3 separate regions of the Homo sapiens genome follow, and all the other regions are linked to region 1. The links come from fine-mapping of genetic effects on gene expression. A gene starts in region 1. Each other region holds a variant in brackets. All regions are shown on one strand. Distances are from middle to middle.

Evidence for each region. PIP is the estimated chance that this variant, and not a neighbour inherited with it, causes the effect.
Region 2: its variant is fine-mapped to the expression of ARL11 in whole blood (INTERVAL, PIP 0.98).
Region 3: its variant is fine-mapped to the expression of ARL11 in whole blood (TOPMed, PIP 0.99).

What each region holds. Positions count from the first base shown.
Region 1 is chr13:49,624,340-49,632,510 of GRCh38, reverse strand. It overlaps ARL11 (ARF like GTPase 11), which reads right to left and starts at 4,004. Exons shown (of 2, transcript NM_138450.6): 1 at 3,896-4,004; 2 at 1-2,081. The coding sequence starts at 2,063. The coding sequence ends at 1,473. RefSeq lists an enhancer at 3,703-3,752.
Region 2 is chr13:49,577,508-49,585,678 of GRCh38, reverse strand. RCBTB1 (RCC1 and BTB domain containing protein 1) reads left to right here and starts at 121. Exons shown (of 13, transcript NM_018191.4): 1 at 121-235; 2 at 5,095-5,174. RefSeq lists a silencer at 1-597. The variant A/G (reference allele first, on the strand shown) is at 4,331.
Region 3 is chr13:50,595,904-50,604,074 of GRCh38, reverse strand. No RefSeq gene overlaps it. Among named protein-coding and RNA genes, the nearest start is that of DLEU1-AS1, 73 kb to the right of the region's middle. The variant T/C (reference allele first, on the strand shown) is at 4,418.

The DNA.
Region 1 (8,171 bases):
GTAAAAAGTTCTGGATCTCCTTCCCCGGAAAAATGGTCCAAAGCGTAACATTTTGCAAATAATTTCAGGTGCTTCATGGATGCTAGGTAATGATCACCTGATGAGCCTTCTAGGATGCTATGGTCAACCTTCCTTTTCCCTGTCAATCATGAGACAGAAGGCATTCGTCACTGTCATCTGTATCTTCAGAATTCACAATTCCCACCTAAAGCACATGATTCATATTCGAAAGCTCAGTGTTTTTGCCACAAACTAAATGCTCTGTTTTTTTTGTTAAATTAATGAATAAATAAAATATTTTATTGATCTGATCTTTAACGAAAGATATGTGCTACAAGAAGGAGAAAAGAGAAGGAAAAAAAAGAAAATGAGTTTTTGAAAAAGATCAACACAAGATGTCATAAAATCGGGAGAGGCTAATTAGCATCAGAAAAAAAACAAGGATAAATTTTGGATGGTGTGAACTTCCAGCCTCTTGCCCAGGGGTGAGCGTCCCAGGGCAGGGAACGTCTAACCTGCAGACCCCTGCTGTTGTATGGGCCCTGCCTAGCTTGCCCTTCTGAGTGACAGTGGCACATCCCCAGGGGCCACTGGGGAAAATCACTCATAAGGATCCGCGATCCATTGTGACATGTCCAGATGATATTTGAATTTGACTTTTTTTTTTCTTTTTGGAGACACAGCCTGTCTTTTTCACCCAGGCTGGAGTGCAGCAGCACAATCTCGGCTCACTGCAACCTCCACTTCCTGGGTTCAAGCGATTCTTCTGCCTCAACCTCCTGAGTAGCTGGGACTGCAGGCGTGCACCACTATGCCTAATTTTTGTATTTTCAGTAGAGATGGGGTTTCACCATGTTGGCCAGGCTGGTCTTGAACTCCTAGCCTCAAGTAATCTGCCCTCCTCCGCCCATGAGCCACTGCACCTGGCCTCAAATTTGATTTTAAAACCTCTTTCCCTATTTGAGAATTTAGGTCTCTATTATTATGCAACCAGTGGCTACTCTATTATGACATATTGCTTCATTCACACTTGGTAACGAGCTATTAAATGAAGTATGTTGAGATTTTTTTCTTAGAGTATCATCATTATTATTATTATTATTATTGAGACAGGGTCTCACTCTGTTGCCCAGACTGGAGTGCAGTGGCGCGATCTTGGCTCACTGCAACCTCTACCTCTTGGGCTCAAGCGATTCTCCTGCCTCAGCCTCCCAAGTAGCTGGGACTACAGGCACATGCCACCATGCCCGGCCAATTTTTTGATTATTAGTAGAAATGGGGTGTTGTGATGTTGCTCTCCAACTCCTGGGCTCAAGGGATTCCCCCACCGTGGTCTCCCACAGTGCTGGGATTACAGGCATGAGCCACCGGGCCAAGCCAGCATTTCTTGTTTGATAGACTAAGCGTAAATTTCTCAAGGATCAGCTGGTTCTTCTAGTTTGTATGAGCAAAGATATGCTGCTCTGTCTGGATCAAGATCTCTTGCTGTCTCCGCGCTCAGCCCCATGGGCTCTCGCCTGCAGACACATGCAGCTGCGAGATTTCAGGAGGCTCCACAGGCTCTGCAGGGCCTCGGGCAGCCCCTCCCCAGTGAGGGCACTGCAGCCCCGGAGCTCCCAGCAGTGGTCCTGGAATCTCTCTAGACTCAGCCTGTTTCTGATCTTAAGCAGCGGAAGTGCATCAGGTGCCTCCTGCTTGTTGGCCAGCACCAAGAAGGGGACGCCAGCCATGTTGGGGTCGTTCAGGACTTCTGTGAGCTCAGCCGCCGACTCGGGTAAGCGGGCTTCATCTGTGCTGTCCAGCACGTACACGAGGATATCTGTGCCTTCCAGATAGTCCTTCCAGCTGGCTCTGAGCGGGGCCTGCCCCCCAACGTCCCAGAGAGTCAGTGACACGTGCCCAGGAGCTTTCAGAGGCTCCACGTTGAAACCAACAGTGGGCAGGGTCTCCACCAGCTGGTGGCCCTTCAGCTTGTAAAGGAGCGTGGTCTTGCCCGCCGAGTCCAGGCCCATCATCACCACCTGGGCTTCCGCCTTGTGACCTCTGGAATTCACAGAACCCATGGTGGCCACTGCTGAATCCTAGGGGAGAAAGGCCAGGGCACACATCAGCTACTGTCTTCTGAAGGAAGACAAATCCATCCTGGTGCAGTGGCTCACACCTGTAATCCCAGCACTGTGGGAGGCCAAGGCAGGAGGATCACTTGAGCCCAGGAGTTTCAAACAAGCCGAGGCAACAAAGCAAGGACCCGCCTTCTCTACAAAAATTGAAATTAAAAATGGAGCACAAATCTGTGCAGGCAAACAACGGAAGAGTTTTTCCAAAACAGGAAAAGTCTTCACAGGGTCAGATTTTAAACAGATGCCTGGGCTTTGAAGGAAGTGAGGATGTGTGAGTCACCATCAGCTAACCTGTCTCTGGGTCAGATAAGAGTGGTCCCTGAGCAGAGAAGATCAGGGGCCTCCTGGAAGACATTCCTGAGGAGTTAAAGCAAAGAGGCAAAATGAAGTTCCAGTCAGACAGAGCTGGTTCAGTAGAAATTACAGAACGATGTCTTCAATTCTTGCTGGTCTGTGGCTTCTAACCTCTTCTCCTCCTATAAGCCTAAATGCTGAAATGGAAGCTAAGCTGGGTTCCATGCACAGAGTGAGAAGGATGGTTCAGCTCACGGTGACCTCTCTTTAGAGCTTCCCAAGGACCAGTACTATGTCTTGGAAACACAGTGAGGTGTCACTTAATGACGGGGACACATTCTGAGAAATGCTTCATTAGGCAATTTCATCATTTTACAAAATCATAGATTGTAATTACACAAACGTGGATGGTCTAGTCTACTCCACACCTAGGCTATATGGTATGGCCCATTGCTCCTGGGCTACACACCGGTACAGCATTCCTGTAATGGGTACTGTAGGCTATTGTAACACAGTGCTAAGTATTCGTGTATCTAAACATAGAAAAGGTAGTGGTTGCACCACAACACTAAGCTGAAAAATAGGAATTTTTCAGCTCTGTTATAATCTTATGGGACCACCGTTGTATATGTGGTCTGTCGTTGACTGAAATGTCTTCATGCAGTGCCTGACTGGGGCTATTTATAAATACTGTTTACTGGGGGCAAATTTATGAGTCAGAGCAAAGCAGTTTCCTCCACTGTCTTACCAAGGTCAATGACTTCTACAACACTCCACATGTGCTTTTTTGTTTGTTTTTGGGTTTTTTTGTTTTGTTTTGTTTTGTTTTGTTTTGAGACAGGGTCTCACTCTGTCGCCCAGGCTGGACTGCAGTGGCATGATCACAGCTCACTGCAGCCTCGACTTCCCAGGCTCAAGCCATCCTCCCACCTCAGCCTCCCCAGTAGCTGGGACTATGGGCATGTGCCATCACACATTTTTGTTGTTGTTTTGAGACAGGGTCTCACTGTGTCACCCAGACTGGAGTGCAGTGGTGCAATCTTGGCTCATCACAACCTCTGCCTCCCTGCAACCTCCGCCTCCTAGGTTCAAGGGATTCTCCTGCCTCAGCCTCCCGAGTACCTGGGATTACAGCTACTACTACCACCCAGCTACTTTTTGTATTTATATTAGAGACGAGGTTTCACCATGTTGGCCTGGCTGGTATTGAACTCCTGACCTCAAATTATCCACCTGCCCGGCCTCCCAAAGTGCTGGGATTACAGGCGTGAGCCACTGTGCCCAGCCACATATGTTTTTAAAGAATCCCAAATTTTAAGACATAAGACCTGTTCCCAACTTAGACGATGCCTGCGTGGAACAGAGAAGAGACATCTCAACTTCCGGGAATGGGGGTGGGGGGATATGAGCTGCCTCTGGAAGGAGGTAAGCCTCTACTCATCCCTACTCCCAAGGGTAGAAAAGTAAAAAGTTAAAATTACCTCTGTGTTACTATTAGACTGCAGCTGTGAGATCCTGCGTGGCTCTCCTCCCCTATGGAGCTGCTTTCTGCTGGCCAGGCATGACCCAAGAGCGAGATGGGAAGGAAGCAGAGCAGCCGTTGCTGCTTCTCCTTTTTGTGCTTCCTTTTCCCAGGTGGCTGGGGGGCGGGGCTGGTGTCACGGCCCCTCCCTCAGCCCTAGGGCGCCTCAGAGCAGTCATCTTGCTGGGCTTGCCACAGAGAGGTCCCCGGCTCTGCAGGTCCTGGCAGAGCAAGGCCCAGTGACAGCTCCATTTTTTAGCAACTCAGACTTGGGTGCCTGAAGGAGGGAGCACGAGCTCGGAGCTGTGTCCAAGCGCAGCCGCCTTCTCTCTTCCCTCAGGATCCTCTGAGCTCCTCGCAGAGAATTCTGACCTCTTCCTTTCAGTACATGCCTCAAGGTTTTTCTGGTGGCTAGAGATTCTCTGATTTGCTTGGAATCACACATGGTTTGTTGTTGTTGTTGTTGTTGTTTTGTTTTGTTTTCTATTTGAGACCGAGTCTTGCTCTGTCGCCCAGGCTGGACAGCAGCCTCCGCCTCCAGGGCTCAAGCGATCCTCCCTCCTCAACCTCCTAAGCAAGTGGGATTATAGGCAGGTGCCACCATGCCCAGCTGATTTTTGTATTTTTCATAAAGACAGGTTTCACCATGATGGCCAGGCTGCACATGTGTTCTTTTAAAAGCTGCCTATGGCCAGGCGTGGTGGCTCAGGCCTGTAATCCCAACATTTTGGGGGGCTGAGGTGGGTGGATCACGAGGTCAGGAGTTCGAGACCAGCCTGGCTAACATGGTGAAACCCCGTCTCTACTAAAAATACAAAAATTAGCTGGGCGTGGTGGCACCTACCTGTAGGCCCAGCTATTTGGGAGGCTGAGGCAGGAGAATGGCATGAACCCGGGAGGCGGAGGTTGCAGTGAGCCCAGATCACACCACTGCACTCCAGCCTTGGTGACAGAGCGAGACTCTGCCTCAAAACAAAAACAAAAACAAAAAACAAAAAAAGCTGTCTACATATGATGAAAACATTCTTTAAAAGGTATGTATGATGCAGATCAACCTTTAAAATTGTGTTAATGTAGTGATTAAAGTTACCGTTCAATTTTTTCTTGAATGGTGTCACTGTGTTTTTCCCAGTAAAAATGACACCTCTAGAAAATGTAATTTTTAAAAAATTGGCTAGTCGCCGGGCATGGGGGCTCATGCCTGTAATCCCAGCACTTTGGGAGGCCAAGGCAGGAGGATCGCTCAAGCTCAGGAGTTCAAGACCAGCCTGGCCAATATGGTGAAACCACGTCTCTACAAAAAATAATAAATTAACCAGGCATGGTGATGTGTGCCTGTAGTTCCAGGTACTTGGGAGATTGAGGCCCAAGAACTGCATGAGCCCAGGAGGTGGAGGCTGCAGTGAGCTGAGATCACAGCACTGCACTCCAGCCTAGAAGACAGAGTGAGACTCTGTCTCTCTCCTATTTTTTTTTTTTAATTGAGATGGAGTCTCGCTCTGGCGCCCAGGCTGGAGTGCAATGGCACAATCTCGGCTCACTGCAACCTCCGCCTCCTAGGTTCAAGCAATTCTCCCACCTCAGCCTCCCGAGTACCTGGGATTACAGGCACGTGCTACCATGCCTGGATAATTTTTTTATTTTCAGTAGAGACAGGGTTTTGCCATGTTGGCCAGGCTGGTCTCCAGCTTCTAATCTCGAGTGATCTGCCCGCCTCGGCCTCCCAAAGAGCTGGGATTACAGGTGTGAGCCACTGCACCCAGCCGAGACTCTGTCTCAAAAAAAAAAAGAAAAAAAGAAAAAAAATTGACTAGTCAGAAACCACTGATTCAGTAGGTATTGAATTTGGATATGGAGTCACAGTGATTTAGCTCTTATAACCAGTAATCTTTGTGCTGTTTTCTGCTTTCCCATGCATTATTTCATTAAAATATCAAGACTCAAGTTGGATGTTATGACTCTTCCATTTTACAAGAAAAGAAGCAGGCTCGGTTGGAAGGCCGAGGCGGGCAGATCACAAGGTCAAGAAATCGAGACCATCCTGGCCAACATGGTGAAACCCCATCTCTACTAAAAATACAAAAATTAGCTGGGCATGGTGGCGCACACTTGTAGTCCCAGCTACTCGGGTGGCTGAGGCAGGAGAATCGCTTGAACCCGGAAGGCGGAGGTTGCAGTGAGCTGAGATCGCGCCACTGCACTCCAGCCTGGTGACAGAGCAAGACTCTGTCTCAAAAAAAAAAAAAAAGAAGCAGGCTGGGACAGGGTGAATCATTGACTCATGATCTTGCTGCGTTTTATAATTCATCTCTTTCTCTTTTACCATGTCATGCTACTCACACAGAAAGTGCCTTGTAAATGGCAAACACCAGATTGTTGTTGTCATTGTTTTTGTTAAGCTACTGTATTTTAGCAGGAAGAACTGATTAGGAAAAGTCAGAAACTCAAAGTGTGTTATGTGCACCACTGTGTGAGGGTATTGATGCTGCTCTTGGTTTGCTCTTTTCAGTGCCTGTGGTCAGTGATCATCCTTTTTCAAGGCCAGGGGGTGTGTGGGGAGGAGACAGAAACAGATAGAGTGCTCCTGGGGGTGGAATTATCCCAGGGAAGTCTCAGAGCAATAAAGAATCGTCTGGTGGAGGGCTTGTCATTCTCGCCCAAACTGCAGCGGGATCGGCTCACGCTGGGACTAAGTCCTGTCCGGGCCCAGCTGCTGAGTCAGCAGGAATCCTGCAAGGGCCCGATTTGCAGGAAGATTGGGGCCGGACGAGGATGACAGCAGGCCAAGGTTGAGGGGCTCCTGGGGGTGGGGGAGCTGGGGTGCTGCTCTGACCCAGTTCCCAGAGCAGCACCAGGGCTAGGTTTGGGCCCCATGGAGGCAGGGAGGGAGCAGAAGCTGTAGAAGCATTAGCACAGTGGCTTGGAGGCACCATGCCAGGCTGCCTGGGTGACCTATGCCCTGGGTGACACAGAGAGAGAAGGGACACTCCCCTTGGCCTCTAGCCTGGAGCTTGGGGCCACATGGCCAGGCTGCAGGCTGCCTCTGGAGGTAGCTGCGTGGCACTGACCACAGAATCTGAGACAGGCACCGCCATCAAGGGGCCGGCTGGCAGTCAGGGGTGGATCTGTGAGCACTGCTGGGGGGCACAGGCTCCCCCAGACATCAAGGAGCCTTGCCTGAGGGCCAAAGTCTTGTGTTCGCTGGGAAACCATGATTACTTTGTGACCCCAGTTCTGCCCAAAGGCCCTTGTGGCCTGAGTTTCTCTGTACAGCCCCGACCCTGACCCCTTCAGCTCAACCAGCAGGGAAGCTTTTCATTAGACACCCCAACGTGGGGAGGCTCACGAGGGCTACTGCCCCGGGAGGCAGCGCAGAGCAGAAGGTAACAGTGTGGCTTTGATTTGGGTCCACCTGGGGGCACACTTGGCCTCCACTGCTTATTTGCTGTGAACCTCAACCTGAATTTCTCTGCACCTCAGTTTCCTTCTCTATAAAATGAGGTTGATGACGATAATAATGGTACCTAACTTGAAGGGTTATTGGAAGGATTTAATAAGTGAAGACACATCAAGTACTTAGCCCAAAGCCTGGCGTCTAGTCCCAGACTAGTTCTGTTAGAGAAGGACAGGAGAGCCCTCAAACGTAGTGGTGTGGCTGGAGAAAGTGACGCTGGTGAATGTGCAAGCCCCAGCACCTTTGTGTGTCTGTGACTGCAGCTTCCAGACCTGGAATAAGGAAAAGGGGCTACACGGGGCTCACTGATACCAGGAGAGACAAAGGTCTTAGGCCCCATCTCTACTGCCCTAAGAGTGTGAGTTTAGAAATGTCCTCCTGCCAACTCTCATACAGGTGGTCAGGCCTGGAGGAGCACGGCACGCCCATTGCACTCACCAAAAAATAACTTGTAAGCCAGGATGCTTCTTCTGATGTTTCTTATGGGATCTGTTTGACCCAAGAGCTGGGGCGGTTTTCTGTGCAGCACAGCTAAGGGAAGGCAGGGGGCCAGGGGCACGCAGAGGACACACACAGGGACTGAAGGAGTCAACTGTAGGGACGACATCCAAATGGGTTGCTGGAAGACCATGGAAAGTTGGTGGTTTTTAAGGGGTTGTTTATCATGCAACAGAGCCTCGTGGTCACTTTTCTGCTCTCTACAGATAGGTCCAAAGGAGGAGAGTGCTAGAACAAGAGCTTTATTCTCCTGGAAAGTGCTAGAGAAACATGGACGGAGTCT
Region 2 (8,171 bases), 47 kb after region 1:
GGCCGGGGCCGGGGCCGGGGCGGTGCGGGATGCTCGGCTGGGTAGCGTCCCGGGCGCGCGCTGCACCGGGTCACGTGAGGCGGCCGGGGCCACGTGACCCGGCGGGCCCGGCGCCCTGGCGCTCCTCCTCTTCGCTGCCGGTGGGCACCGCCGCTCGCTCGCACTTCTGCGCCCATTGGAGCTTCGGAGATCCCTGCGGTCCCGCGGGACGGCGCGGCAGCAGCTGACCTCGCAGGTAGCGTGTGGGCGCGGGGTCGAGCTCGCGGAGGCCTCTTCCCCCTCGGCCCTGCCCCTGCTTCCCTTCCCCGCAGGCCGGGCCGGGAGTGCCCCGTTACTCCTGTACCTCCCGCCTCCCTCGCTCGGGCTCCCGGGCAGTCCCTGCGGGCGCTGCGTCCGGGGCGAGGGATGGGGTCCCCGGCCCGGCCCCGCCAGCACCTCAGCTAATGTGCTCTCCTGCGAGGAGGAGGGAAGGATGGGGAGAGGCGAGGGAAAGTTTTCCCTGCCTCCCTCTCTTTTTTGAGGTGCACGGACTCGATTTTGCTCGTAGCTGAAGTCTGACTGCTGTGGGTGCCGTTTTACTGAGAGGAGATCTCCCCTCCGACTCTTCCTATTCTCTCTCCTTTCCAAGATCTTAGCATCTCTCCTTCGTCTCCTGAGAGTAGTGCTGTCACAAACCGTATTCTTTATCGTTTCCCTTTCCGACACAGAATCCACAAAGGCAGGGATTTTGTTAGTGAGGACTTTTATCCAGGCGTGCGGTGAACTCTAAATAAGTGACGTTTCCCTTGTCTGCCTCTGATAAAGTACCTACCTGCTCGGTTTAAGATGACTATCGAGCACGCTGTGTTCTGCTCGCATAAGTGGCCTTTTGTTTTTATTTATTTGCATGTAAGACACTTTCAAGCCATCTGCGGAACTCTGCAGCTGGGGATTACAATTTTATAAAGCAGTCTTGTAATAATGCTTTTAGAAAACCAGATTCATGATCTTCCTTGCTTTTGCCCTATTCTTTTTTTGGGAGGACTAAAAGCCCTTAGAGGACAAAAACTGAGTTTCTGAAACTGGTGTGTATTGTGGGCTAATAACATTAAAACATCAAAGTATATAATGCCGGAAGGAATGGAAAAATGATTGAATCCTGAGGGCAGTTTATAGGTGCTTTAAACTTTAGAGTACTCATTTCAAGTGAGCACTGGGTGAATTTCACCCGTTTAAACTGCTTTCAGGGTCGAGGATGTAACTGTATATTTGGATTCTATTAATATAACAGTTCATCTGTGGGATGGACTTTAATCCATTTAATCCATTGTGTGAATATCAGTCTATTTATTAATACTCTAGACGGGTCCTTTTTCTTCTACCCGCTAGTCTGTTTCTCTTGAAGAGGAAGCATATTCATCTTTAAAGAGATTTTTGCAAGTGATTTTTTTAAGTGTGTGATCCAAATGATAAAGTTCTGTGAACTTCAGAAAACAAGTAGCCATAAAAACCCAAAGCTGTCAAGCTTGTAGCTTTTAAAAAATGATTTGAAAATTTTAAAGCGTGCCCGTATGCTGCAGCAAGAACTTGGCTCCACCTAATATACGGGAGCTGGGAAGTCTGAAACAGTACCCTCCTTTTCCTGGGAGTCATTGTGGGGTAGATGAAACTGTGAAGGAAAGTGAGGACCTTTATTATGATGATGATATCCCTTCTGTGTGTACTACATTAAACAGTAAGTCATGCATAGGAAAGGAGGCTGGGGCCTCACAGAGTCTAGAATCTAGGCAGGGCATTCGGACACATTTCAAAATATTCTCTGGTTTTACAAAAAGTTAAAAATGTTACATATTGGCCAGGCGCAGTGGCTTACATCTGTAATCCCAGCATTTTGGGAGATTGAGGCGACAGATTACACGAGGCCAGGAGTTCAAGACCAGCTTGGCCAACATGGTGAAACCCCGTCTCTACTAAAAATACAAAAAATTAGCTGGGCGTGGTGGTGTGCGCCTGTAGTCCCAGCTACTCAGGAGGCTGAGGTACGAGAATTACCTGACCTGGGGAGGCAGAGGTTGCAGTGAGCCGAGATTGTGCCACTGCACTCCAGCCTGGGCGACACAGTGAGACTCCATCTCAAAAAAAAAAAGTACATGTTGTGTACGTGCTGAAGAATGCACAAGAGGGGTATGATGAGTGTTGTCTGAATTTAGCCAGAATAGACTTAGTAGAGGAGATCAGTTAATGAAATAATTATATAAGTCAACTGTGTGTTAGATCACATTTAAAACACACACACACACACACACACACACATACACAAAAGCACACTTCTTTCCTGGGGTAGAAAAGCTCACAGAGGAGACCAGATGGGTACCTCTAAAGACTTACGGTCTCCAGCTTTCTCTGGGCTTGGTCTTACCATCCTGCTAGGTTTCTCTGCTCAGTGCTCTTTCCCATCCTCCCTGGTGACTGCTTCAGACTTCACCATTTTACCCCCAATTGCTCCACTCCACTTTTTTCTTTTTGAGACAGGGTCTCACTATGTCGCCCAGTCTGGAGTACAGTGTGCCATGTGATCATAGCTCACTGCAGCCTCAAACTCCCAGGCTCAAGTGATCCTCCCCACTCCCAAGTAGCTGGGACCACAGGTGCGCACCACCACATTCGACTAATTTTTTTATTTTTTGTAGAGACAGGGTCTCCCTATGTTGCCCAGGCTGGTCTTGAACACCTAGCCTCAAGCAGTCCTCCCGCCTTGGCCTCCCAAAATGTTGGGATTACAGGCGTGAGCAACCACACCCGGCCTCCACTCCACTGTTTATTGCTACCTCCCCTCTTACTCTTAGCAAAAAGCCTAACTCTTTCTTCATAGGGGAAAAATAGGTGACCTCAGAAGAGAATGGTCTCCAAATGCCAATCAAAACCATGAGATACCACCTCCCATCCACTAGGATGGGTATAATACAAAAGACAGTAAATACTGGAGAAAGCAGCACTGTTGTACATTGCCGGTGGGCATGTAAAATGGAGACTCAGCGGGGAGAGAGAATGAGAATGAGAGAATGAGTATGTCTCCAGCATCTGGATTCCTAACCTTTAAACTGGCTTTCATTCACATTCACCCTTTCCTCCTCCTCTTGTGGAAGGAAGAAAAGGAAGACTTGCTCCTTTCTACAGTTTCTCTTGCATTTATTTATTTATTTATTTATTTAGAGACAGAATTTTGCTTTTGTTGCCCAGGCTGGAGTGCAGTGGTGTGATCTTGGCTCACTGCAACCTCCGTCTCCCGAGTTCAAGCGATTCTCCTGCCTCAGGGTCCTGAGTAGCTGCGATTACAGGCACCCACCACTATGCCCAGCTAATTTTTGTATTTTTAATAGAGATGGGGTTTCACCATGTTGGCCAGGCCGGTCTCGAACTCCTGACATCAGATGATCCACCTGCCTCGGCCTCCCAAAGTGCTGGGATTACAGGCATGAGCCACTGCGCCCGGCGCTTCTGTTGCACTTCTGCTTCAGATCCCATTCCCTGCTACTTTCTTAAGGCCCATTGAGTTGTTACATCCTCTCCTCTTTGATGTTTCTACTGGCTCCTTCCCATTAATTCAAACATGTTCAAGCCTCTAACAATGTTTACATTAAAAAGGTTAACAGAAAACGTCCTGCAACTCTATCACATTCTGTGATTACTATGCGATTTCTCATTTTTCCTTCAGAGTGAAATTTCTTGAACAAGTTGTTTATACTCATGGTTTCCTTTTCTTCACCTTTCACATACGCCTCAACCTGCTGCAACCTGGCCTCTTCCACCCACAACCTCAGTGAAACTGTTCTTGTTAAGGTCACTGATAATTCTCCTTGTTAAATCCAATGGAAGTTTCTCCACCCTTCCCTCGTTTGGTGTCTCAGCAGCATTCGACACTAGCATGCCTCTTGCCTGTGATGCTCAAGTCCCCAGATCTCTGTGACACTCTGTCTCCTGGTTTTCCTCCTGGTCTACCTCTTCCTTCACAGTCCCTTCTAGGGGGTACTCCCTGTCCCTTTCCCGTTGGAGTTTCTTAGAGTTCTTCTTAAGGTACTCTGCTCTCCTTATTTCACTTGCTTTTTTCCTGGGTGATTTCATGCCAGATTTCCAAATCTCCAATCCAGACCTTTCTTGAGCTTCAGATTTCTAAATCCATCTGTTGGGACTTGTCCACTTTAATATCCCACAGGTACCTGGCACAAATGTCCATAGTAGGACTCATCACCCCTGAGGCCTGCTGTGCTTTCTGCTGTAGTGAGTGGCAGCACAGTTCTCTCTCACTCAAGCTCAGCGTCTGCCTGTGATCTTCGGCTCTGCCTTTCTGCTT[A/G]TCCAGTGCTCCTTGTCCCATTCAGCCAGTTGCAGAATCTTCTTGATTTTCCTTCTTGTTCAATTTTCTCCATTTCCCTAGTGTGGGCTTCAATCCCTTCTTTTCTGGCTTACCATAGCCATCTGGACTTCCTCTAAGCACTCCTTTGTCGTCTCATGTCTCTGTGGTCAGCCAAAGTAATCTTTCATAGACCTACATCTGTTTATGCCACTTCCCTGCTTAAGACCCTTCAGGGATTACCTGGTGCTCTTAGGATAAAGCCTGAGTTGTTTGGCTGCAGCCATGCTGACTTTCTTTCAGTTCCTCCACCAGAGCCTTACCTGGCATGAGTGCTCACTGTTGCAGGCGCCTGCTTCTCTTTAGGTAGCTGAAGCATACTTCCCAATTCTGTTGCCTCCACAGCATCTGACCAGCCACACTGTTGTGAGCATCTGTTTATGTGTCTAGATCCCCCAACCCCATGTAATTTCTGTTGGTGTTGGCTCTGTGTCCTGTTTACCTAAGAAAATTTATTGAATTAATAGTGTATGGTTCTGCCAGTCCATTGCTGGAATTTCAGTTTGGCTTTAGGTCATTGCAGGGTACAGTTGATACTTTTCATACAACTGGGGACTAATAGATGAAATCACTTTTGGGGTATCCACATGAGAAAGATTCATGAAACCATATTTAGATTTGAATTTGACCCACCAATTCCAGCCTTGAATTCATTTGGAAAATAAAATGAAGTATTATGTTTTATCCATTTCTTTTTTCTTTTTCAGACAGGATCTTGCTCTCTTGCCCAGACTGGAATACAGTGGTGTGAACACGGCTCACTGCAGCCTCAACCTCCTGGACTCAGGTGATCCTCCCACCTCAGCCTCTTGAGTAGCTGGGACTAACTACAGGCGCACACCATTATGACTGGCTAATCTTTTTATTTTTAAGGAAATGGAGTCTCGCCATGTTGCCCAGGCTGGTCTTGAACTCCTGGGTTCAAGTGATCCTCCTGCCTTCGCCTCCTAAAATGCTGGGATTACAGGTGTGAGCCACTTCACCCAGCCATCTATCCATTTCTTTAAACTTTGACCCATCATTGGTTTTTTTGTTCTGTTTTGTGACACCTGTTTGTTTGGTTTAACAAAGAACAAACTTACAGAAAAAACATTATTTCTAATCATCGATATTTCTTTTCTGGTTTCCTTTTGAAAACAACAGTATCCTATAAAAGCAATACTTTTATAAGATCTCAGTCAGCTGCACAACCCTAGATATGTTATTTTTTTCACTGCTAATGCTATTGCCACTTGGTTCGTTTGCTTTTCGAGCACATGGCTGAGGTTAGAAGTGAGACGAGATGAAATGAATGAGATGAAAGCAGCCCCTTGGATGATGGGGCTAAAGAAATGCTTACAGAGGCCATTATTGCAAATTGTGCTTCAAGTCAAATAACTTATTAGTGGTTGGGAAATGACAGTTGTAGGAACTTACATTTTCCTCTAAAATTAGTGATGAATTTGAACAAAACTTATGAAACAAAGGGTAGGCACAATCAGAGAATTCTAAAACACTAGTCATACTGTTCTCTAAATGAAGGTGGGGGTATTATCTTCACTCACCTGTACAGGTGGCTTCAGCTTGAAGGATGACAAACTACTTTGGGAGAAGGCTACATTCTCAGACTCCTTAGTCAAGCATTCAGGGCATTCTTCCTTTCCCTTTCATTCTTTTTTTTTTTTTTTCTGAGACAAGTCTCGATCTGTCACCCAAACTGGAGTGCAGTGGCACCATCTCGGTTCACTGCAAGCTGTGCCTCCTGGGCTCACGCCATTCTCCTGCCTCAGCCTCCAGAGTAGCTGGGACTACAGGCGCCCACTACCAGGCCCGGCTAATTTTTTTGTATTTTTAGTAGAGACGGGGTTTCGCTGTGTTAGCCAGGATGGTCTTGATCTCCTGACCTCGTGATCCGCCTGCCTCGGCCTCCCAAAGTGCTGGGATTACAGGTGTGAGCCACCACGCCCGGCCTCCCTTTCATTCTTGTAGTACTGTGTGTTTGCAGAAGAGAGACGTGGATGACAGCTGTTCTAGCAGCTGGGGCAATAACATATTAGTGTCTCAGCACATCTTCGAAACTTTGCCTGTGATTTGCAGCCCTTATACCATAGAGTGGGTGAAATGGTTTTAAGTTTTATTTTTATTTAAAAATGTTTGAGGCTGATTCTTAGAGGCTTATCTGGACCTGGGAAATACATTTGGTATCTCAATGAGACAGCATTTGCTCAGTCTCAAAAAGCCCATCAGAATTATATGTAAGAAATTGGTAAGAGTAACATTTGGCTGTTTGTACCTTGAGAGGGTTTTTGAATTGCTTTTGCTGTAGCATAGATGGAAGACATTAAGTTGTAATGTTGTATACCAAAGTTTACCCCAAACCGTAGAGCTCTCTTATTTGAATGTTTTTCTGGAATTAAATGGATTCAGAAATAAAGATTGTCATACCCTTCAATCTTTTGTGCTCAAATGGAACATTTATTGCTAAAAAAGGAAGAAGGCTATGAAGAACACTTTGTTCTTCTAGGAAACTGGATGATCTTCACTGAGGAAAGGCTCACATTTTATCATCTGCTGGAATATGGAGAATTTGGTTTCTGGGATTTCGTGTAATTGTTTTCTGTTATATACAATTTTTATATAGTTGTCACTAGTTTGCACATAATTATTTCCTATTTGACATATTAACATGTGTCACATGGACCATATACTTGCATGATACATTCATTTCCTTAATTATTCCAGTTGTATTTGCATTCTAGTTTTCCACTTACTTAGGATCTGACTTTCCATTAGACCTTCAGTTCCTCAGAGGCAGAGACCATGATTGTATTCTTTATGATGTCCCTGGCATTGTTGGTATCTGGGGTCATTGCAGAAGAAGAATTAATGTATGCTATTAAAGTCAGCTCTCTGTATCCATGGATTCCACATCTGTGGATTCAACCAGCCTCAAATTGCAAATATTAAAAATTGCATTTGTACTGAACATGTAGAGTATTTTTTCTTGTCATTATTCCCCAAGCAATAAACGTTAACAACTATTTACCAAGCATTTACATTGTATTAGGTATTATAAGTAATCTGGAGATCATTTAAAGTATATGGGAGGATGTGTGTAGGTTATGTGCAAATACTATGCCATTTTCTATCAGGGACTTGAGCATCTGTGGATTTTAGTATCTGCAGGAGATCCTGGAACCGGTCCCCCACAGATACTGAGGGACAACTGGATTTTGTTCACATTAGCATACAATAGTACTTTTTTCCAAGGCCCTTTAGATTTTATCACTAGCTCATTAACTATAAATAAATTTTTTTCGTAAGACAGCTTAGCAACTTAAACTGATAAATAAAATCATCACCCATTCAGTTTACAAAAATAGAGAAACCTCTATTAGGAATTTTCAGTGTATGTGTAAATGCTTTAATTCAAAGTTTTTGCAATTAAAAATATCATTTTGCATATTAGAAGTTGCTGTTTTGAGTAGTTTAAAGCTTGCTGTAGCTTGTATGCTGAAGAATGTTTAGGCTACTTAAAATGATTGTTCCAACATTCAGAGCCCTTCCAGTTTCCTCTGGCTATCGGCTTCCATAATAAAGAATGACACAAACTCATTTCATGCTTCTAAAATGACACCAGAAGCGTCAGAATCTTGGTGCTCGCCAATGCTGAAGGATTGCTTACTCTTTTCCCACTCTTTTCCTTAGCTCTAAGGTCAGTAGAAGCCAGATCTAAAGGTAGAATACCCTATTGGTGGCATTTAAAAGCCAGTACATAACAGCAATTTAAACTAGCCCAAACAAA
Region 3 (8,171 bases), 970 kb before region 1:
CATGTGTTGGTGGAAAGCAGTAGAGAACTAGGAGTTGAGAAGCTTTGTTTGGGGGCCAACTCTATTAGCTCCCGACTATGTGACTTTAGGCAGGAAACCCAGGCAGAATTGCCTTGAGATGGAAAAGGGAGAGCTAGTGCAGATCACAACTGGCACAGAACATGGATTTCTCCAGTTACATCTTAATTTACACTCAACCAGATATGAGTGCCCATTGATGCATGGATGGGGCCAGCCCTGTGCCTGAGGAGGTGGAGGGGAGTTTGGATCATAATCCCAAAAGACATAATCCCTAACACCATCATCCTGAATGTCGAAATACCCAAAGATCAAAATCCCTAAACAGAAGATGGGAAAATGCAATATGGGATGCCCAAGTCGGTATATAACAAATCATAGAAGAATTTCAAAAAGAGCAGTGCCACAGAGAAAATGAATGTGAACATATTCTCCAAAGAACAGCCATATCCCTAAAGAAAGAAAGCAGCTACTCATCATGATGCAAGCCTTCAAAATGTAGTTAATCAGACTGTGTGTGGTGGCTCATGTCTGTAATCCCAGCACTTTGGGAGGCTAAGGTGGGAGGATCACTTGACGCCGGGAGTTTGAAACCAGCCTGGGCAACATAGTAAGACCCTGTCTCTACAAAAAATAAAAAACAAAAATTAACCAAGCATGGTGGCACATGCCTATAGTTCCAGCTACTCAGGAGGCTGAGGTGGGAGGATCACTTGAGCCCAGGAGTTCAAGGCTGCTGTGAGTCTTGATCATGCCACTGCACTCCAGCTGGGGTGACAGAGCAAGACTTAGTCTCAAAAACTAACAAACAAAAAAGGTAATGATCGCGAAAGCTGGCCAGCTGCTATGTACCATCTCCTTGAAATTGCCCATAATCTATCCCTGTAATATACTTTTTCATATGTCAAACTTTTAAAAATTTTTTTAGGGCTTTTTTGTTTTTTCTTTTTGCTTTTCCTTTGTTTAATTTTTTTTTGACTTTTTAAAATTATCGGCACTATGTTTTACAATTCACTGTGTAGCGTATTACATCTCTGCATAATTTCCAACAATAGAGGTAAAGATGTTTAGAGACTTTAGAGTTTTAATTTGTTTCATGCATATTTTGCAAATTCAACTTTACAAAAGTGCATTATCGCAATATTGACTTTGTATGTAAGACTTGTGTGGCATGTAAAAACATGCACAATGTTTTTACATTAATTATCTCCTCAGTAAATGAAGAGACATCCTTTTAGTACATCTGTGTTTGTGAAAGATAAAACGTCTCAAGATCTTGGCTCTTTGAGCGATTGCATATGCAGTGGTGACCATCTCAGCTTTTGATTTCAGATGAACTCAGTTATGAAGCTGGGTACACGCCATTACCAACCATAATGATATGCATTTACACATTTTGCTTTTTGACCTATTTCTTTATGAATATGGCTCATCTACTAGTAACTGTTATATCCATGCTGCTATTGTTAGTGTACCTGTGCTTATGCTGGCAAAAATATGTATGTTATTATTGCGTATCTTATTGTGCAAAGTGGCCTATGAAGTTTTCTGTGGTGTTTCTACGTGTTTCTCAAGTTAGTTCCCCTTTAAAGTGTGAATAAATATATTTTAAGGAATATTTTAATATTTTTTTCCAGAACGATATTTTTAAGATTTCGATATTTTTGGGATTTCAACATTTGAGATTACAATGTTGGAGATTGTGTCTTTTGGGATTGTGATTGGCTCTCAGTGGAGAGAAGTCCTGCAGCTCTTAGCACCTTCATAGAGGCATCTTACAATGCCACCCTCATCTTCAGGGAGTTTGTCCTCCCTCACCTTTTATATTTTGAGCCTTAAAGTCTCTGTTTTTGCAGAATATTTGAGTAGCTTGATCACCTGGTTAAAACCCTCTCCCAGGCCAGGTGCAGTGGCTCATACCTGTAATCCCAGGGCTTTGGGAGGCCTAGGTGGGTGGATCACTTGAGGTCAGGAATTCGAGACCAGCCCAGTCCTGACCAACATGATGAAACCCCGTCTCTACTTAAAATACAAAAATTAGCCGGGCGTGGTGGTGGGCTCCTGTAATCCCACCTACTCTGGAGGCTGAGGCAGGAGAATCGCTTGAACTCGGGAGGTGGAGGTTGCAGTGAGCAGAGATTGCACCACTGCCCTCCAGCCTGGGCGACAGAGTAAGACCTTGTCTCAATAAAACAAAACAAAACAAAAAATAAAACCCTCTCCTAGCAGGCCTGGACACCTTCAGACAAATACATGAAAATAGTCTGTGTCTATTCCTCTGGGAGGCATTGGTTTTTACTGATTCTTACACAGCTTCCATAGCCTCGTTTGACTGTCTTCCACCATTTTGGGTTGATAATATTTATGTACAATTTTATTCTTTTATAAAACTTACAACTTGCTAATGTTTATTTTTCCAATTTAAAAAAGTAACACATATTCACTTTGGAAAATTTGGAAAACAGAGAACAAAGAAAAATAATAGTTTCCTGTAATCCCACTCTCACAGAGCACCACTTTTAATGTTTTGGTGTTATTTCTTTTCAGTCTTTATTCTCTGGATATAATATATGTTTAACTTAGTTGGAATCAATTTTATATCCAACTTATTTTTTTCATTTGACATGTTGTCATACATAGATGTATGGATATTCATTAACACAATGTTCTTGATCACTCTAGGTCAATATCTAGACCTATTGTAGCAATTCTATTGCTGCAATATGCAAAGAGATGTTCAAATAATACCTTGAAAACAGCATAACCTCTCTAGCTCTCAGGCTCTTCATCAATAAAATATAAAATACACAATGTTGATCTACAGGGTCCCCAATAAAATTCTTTAAAAATAGGATATGAATTTGGAGGGACATCCTTTCTACCAGGACTCTGCCACAGGGACCCTAACCATAAGCACCAAGGACTTGCCTAAAGAGTCCAAGAACAAAGCTCTTTGGTCCATCGTAGATATAGACCCAGCTGACATAAGAAACCAAGACTGGCATAATTTTGTTCTTGGTGAGTAAAGCCTGAGACAAGTGAACTATTTTCACCATGGAAACTCCAACTCCTGCCATTTCAGATGCCATATATTACATCTTTCTGGGATACTAGTTTCATGTTGTCATGAAAGGACAGTCAGGATAGTGTAGCATAGCTTGGAGTTTTCCTCTAAAAGGCTCATTTCCATATTGTTAGCTGTTTGTTGTTGTTTGGCTGGTTTCAGCAAGTCCCCCTGATTGTTTTGACTGTCCTTGTTTCATTTGGTTCCTGACTTTCAGCTCTATTTACTTAGCATTATATCCTCTTTATTTAGGCCACCTCCTACCCTAACCTTGTTTTGTCTTTTTGTCTTATTCCAAAAAGGCTTCAGAATCCTGACAAAACAATCATCTCTCACCAGGCCCTTTGCTCTGTGTAAGGCTGGAAAACAACTTCTGAGCAATCTCCTTTTCCTCTTTAGTAACAATAGACCTTTTCTGATTTTATGCAGAACTTGGGAAAATGTTTAATTTCAGAAATGCCTCAAAAGGAGTGGAGGAAGTGAATTTGGGACTTAACTCTTTCTTCCAAGGCTTAGAATCTTCAAGTTGTACCTACAAACCCCTGGAAATAATTTTACCTGAAAGCACACCATTTCTCCAGTAGTATAGTTAAACGTGGTGTCACTTTTATAAAAGCGCCCCAATATGAATTTTCAGTATAATTACTCAGTTTCGCTTTTGTGTTCACTCTTTCCTAGCAGGTTGAGAACAGATGACTTGAAAGAAAATGGTAGATACATAAGAACATATCTAGTTTCCAGGGGTGGTACTGGACCTTGGTAGATCAGATGGGGCCAAAATCTTTCCTCCACTAAAAGTGCTCTTTGGAATTAAACCGTCTCACCAGAAGGCCTTATTACAAAGCACACATGCTTGTCAGCAATCTGGTGAACTACATTCCTTCACCTGGGAGGCACAGATAACCATATGGCAAAGGACGAGGATAGATAGTATTTCTACTAGGAAAGAGACACAAACTTGGGAGAAATAATACCATCTATCAAAATTGCTTTTATAACAGTAGTAATTTAATGGTACATTTTCTTAGCTCCAGTTTACTTTGATGTATTGAAGATATCAATAATCATTGCACAGATTGTTTTTAAGATTAAAGGAACACATGTATTTAAAAAGACTGCCTCAGCACCTGATACATTATAGAAGTTTAATAAATAGTGGTTAATTAAAAAAAAAAAAAAAAGCACACATGCTGCAGGAGACAAGTAACAGGTGAGCACCTGGCATAGTTTGAGAGCAAACCAAGGTAAAAATGAAGACAGAGGAGAAGTGGGAGGGAGTCAGAGTACAGGAGCCAGCCTCAGGAGGATGAGCCCAGACTGGGCATCCCAGGAGTA[T/C]GCATGTCCAGGGTGCAAAACAAGAACTAAGTTCCAAGGGTGGTACTAGAAGGGCATGAGTCTGCAAGAGAGAAGGAGGAAGGGAGACCACTTCAGAAAGAAAGCCTCTCCAAATTCTGCTGGACAGATCCTGTTCTCTGAAATGACCTTTCCCTGCTAGACTCCATCTCTAATTATCAAAAGACTGAAAACATTGAGCTCTTTCAAGGAAAATTACTACATTCACTTTTTCTTGGAAAAATGTGTTTAGATTCTTTGCTTTCTGAGCCAGAATATTGTTTAAACGACAGGATGGGATGTACTCTCACCCCATTCTCTACATTTCTATCCCTTGGGAGCCAGATGCTAAATTGTTTCCAGCCAGTTAATAATGGTGTGGTCTTGAAGCTCCCAGGGGACCCAGAGGAAACCTGCCTCCATTTCTAAGGCTCTGTTCTATGTGTTGGTTGCTGGGTAGATTCAGGTTAGTCAAATAAAGGGAGGAAATAAAGCATAGAAGTGAATTCGTCCACCGTACACCCCAACAGGGCAAAGCCACGAAGTTACCACCTGTCGACAACATACTTTCTGCTCCCACCCACCTGCATGTAAATGCCTGAAATGTGCAGTCACCTTAGTGGAAATGTAAAGGCCAGGCTGAGCCAAATGATAGGACACTTGCTTTAAGAGAGCATTCCACATGGTGCCATTGATAATTTTTCTGTTAATTTGGTCACTGATGCCATTAACAGACACTGTCTGAGGACCTACTTGATGTAGGCAACATAGTAGGTGTTTCAGAAGACACAAGGATGAGTCGTCCAAGAGCTATGCCTTGAAGGAATGCCCAACATAAGGCTTAAGGCAAGGCATGAACACAAATACAATAACCTAAAATATGTTATTTTTGGTTAGTAAGTATGTAATAATAATAGCTGTCATATATCAGCCCCTCCCCCTGTGCCATGCAGCTCAGGAGCATTATTGCTGATCATTAACAGCCACCTTGCCAAGCACATCACACATGTTTCATCAAGCGTGTCACACGTTTTGCAGACAGGGAGGCTTAAGGTCAGAGAGATTAACTTACTTGCTCAAGGTCACATGGTTAGTGTGTGACAGAGCCAGGCTCTGAACTCTAAAGCATGGGCTCTTAACACACAACACAGTGACTCTGACCCATTTTTTCTCTGTGAGATGGTCGGAACAGGTGCCCATATCATGGCAGCTCAGAGCAAGGAGAGAGAGCCTCAAGCTAGAGGAACTGAGAAAGGCTTTGTGCTCTTGAGCTGAGTCTTGAAAGATTAATAGGCTTTAGATGTGAGGAGATGAGAGAGAGAGATGGGGTGGGATGGAGAGACCTGGGAGGAAAAGGAAGCATGGAAAAAAGATATCCATGGGGAAAGCCTGTGTGGGTAGAGAGGAATGATCACAAGGTACAGGAGGTGGAATGATTCGGAAGCTGCAGGGGCAGAAGGGCAAGGGATGGGAGCCTGGAACAGCGGACCAGGATTTGAGAATACATTTTTTAAAAGCAATTGAAAGTTTCTGAGAAGGGGAATGACCCAGTCAAAGCCCACATTGAGAATGGTGGTGGGCAGATGGAAGGCGGAGAGAGGGGGAGCAGGGATGAAGGCACTGCATCTCCTGGGGTGAAGACAGCCAGTGGCAGTGGGACTTGTAAGAAGGGGACAGCTGTGAAGGTATTGAAGGAAGTAGAATCCACCAGATCAACAGCCAACGTGAGAGGTAAAGAGAAGGGACAGAGGCCAAGGATCTTTTTGTGCCTGTCTAACAGGGAGGATAACTACTAAAGTAGCCTCTAAATACATTTAAGAAATTAGTAAATTAATTAATAAATTACTAAATTAGCCTCTAAATTGGCTCTTTTTAATCACTGGCAGCGTTGTTTCTCAGAATGTTTTGACCTGTGGGCAATTTAAGTGGACCCAAGACCCTATTTAATCTCTATACTCTTGCTTATTACAAAAAAAAAAAAAAAAAAAAAGAATGAAGCTGTATTTATGAGACAATGAAATACATAAAATTCTAAAAGTAACTCGTGTCAAAAGCAAAAGACTAGGCACTGGGAAAGCATTAAAAACACGTACAATATGGCAGCTCAGGACCACCTGGAGAAACCTAGAATCACTAGTGGGCCCACGCTCCCATTGGAGAGGCCCCAATATTTACTCTGAGGCGAGTTGAGGTTGGTGGCAGTTAACACAAATTGAGTGCCACCATGTGCCACGTTTCGTTCTAAATGCAAATTCCTTTCCTGACCTATGTCCCCATCACCTACATCAGCTCCCCAGCCTCCTCTCTGAAGCCTCCCTACCCCACCTCATCCCAGAGGATCTTGCATGTAAGGCAAAGTGTTCTTTCCCACTTTATTTAAGCCAAGAGAGACACAGGCCCACACCAATCAGTGACCTCCCTGCTATTAGCTCTTGCCTGTGTTCCTCTGTGCATTGGTGAAGGAAGAAGCCCTGGGTCCCTATCTTATGATGTCCCAGCCTTTCCTTTGCCTGCACCAGCTCACAGTGGAGCCAAGCAGGGCTGTAAGTCTAGCAGACCCCTCACTGGAGTTGAGTAATTTGCAACCTTGCCCTGATTTAATCTGCAATCCAATTTGCTACTTACTCTCCCCAAGCTCTTATCAACGGTTTACATTTCCATGTGCCTTTTCTGTGCTGTATATCTGTGTTTTCAATTATGTCAGCCCAGGTGAATTAGCCTTCCATTGTTCAAGGTCAAACCTCAAGTTGTTATTTCCTGCCTATACAGCTAGTCCCTTTCCCCTCTATCCCTCTGGGGCAGTTTCTCAATTGTCGCTGGTGTTCCCAGATCCTATCTCCATCAGGTTTCATCTGTGAATTTAATTATGAAGCTATGCCCTATTTGGCTTATTTCACTCCATGGTCCAAACGTTTATTATGCATCCATTCTCCACAGGCACCCTGGTTCCACAGATATGCTAGGCATGCCCTCCGCAGCCATATGAAAATGAAAAGTTAGGAGTCCCAAAAAGGAACTAAATGCGCCTAATTTTGTTCATATTGTTGAGTCCCTTCACCTGACCAGCAAACCCTTTGATCCTGCACTTAGGCGCTTCCATGGCCACAGAGGGCTCTTCTAGCACAGGGATTGTACAGTTGTTAAAGCAAAAAGAAGGCAGAAAAGGCTAATCCAGAGCAACTCTTGAAAGCAGCCCCAAGGAGTCTTCCAGAAAAGCCTTGGTCTGCCTTCCTCCCAGGGGCTCAGCTCCAGCTGCACTTTACCTCTGCAGGTGGAGGCTCCCAGCAAGGCTCTGCTGAGGGCACTGCTGTGGCTCCCCTGCTCACACTTGGGGTCCTGTGGCTGAGTCTAGCCTTTCTTCCTCCTGCACACTGCCTGCCCCATCGCTTTGACAGAGGGGAGCCCCTCAAGTGCATCTTTGGAGGGGACAAGACACTGCTTGATATCCTGAAACATAAAGAGGCAGCATGCATCACTCAGCCACATAGCCCACATGTCACTTCTATCAGTGAAGCCTTTCAGTTTCCACCCTTGTGCTCCTGGCAAATGTGATGGCCCCGATGGCTCTTTGCTCAGTGTGATGGCCCCAGGCACCCTTTGCTCATCTTATGTTCACTTAAGTGGCTGACTGTCCCACGAGTAGAAGCCGGGAGCAGGAGCCACAGTATCTCAGTGATCTTTGTGTCCTCCACCTCTTACCTAGAACATAAGAGGTCCTCGGTAAGTTTATCAAATGACTCCCTGAACAAATGCACAT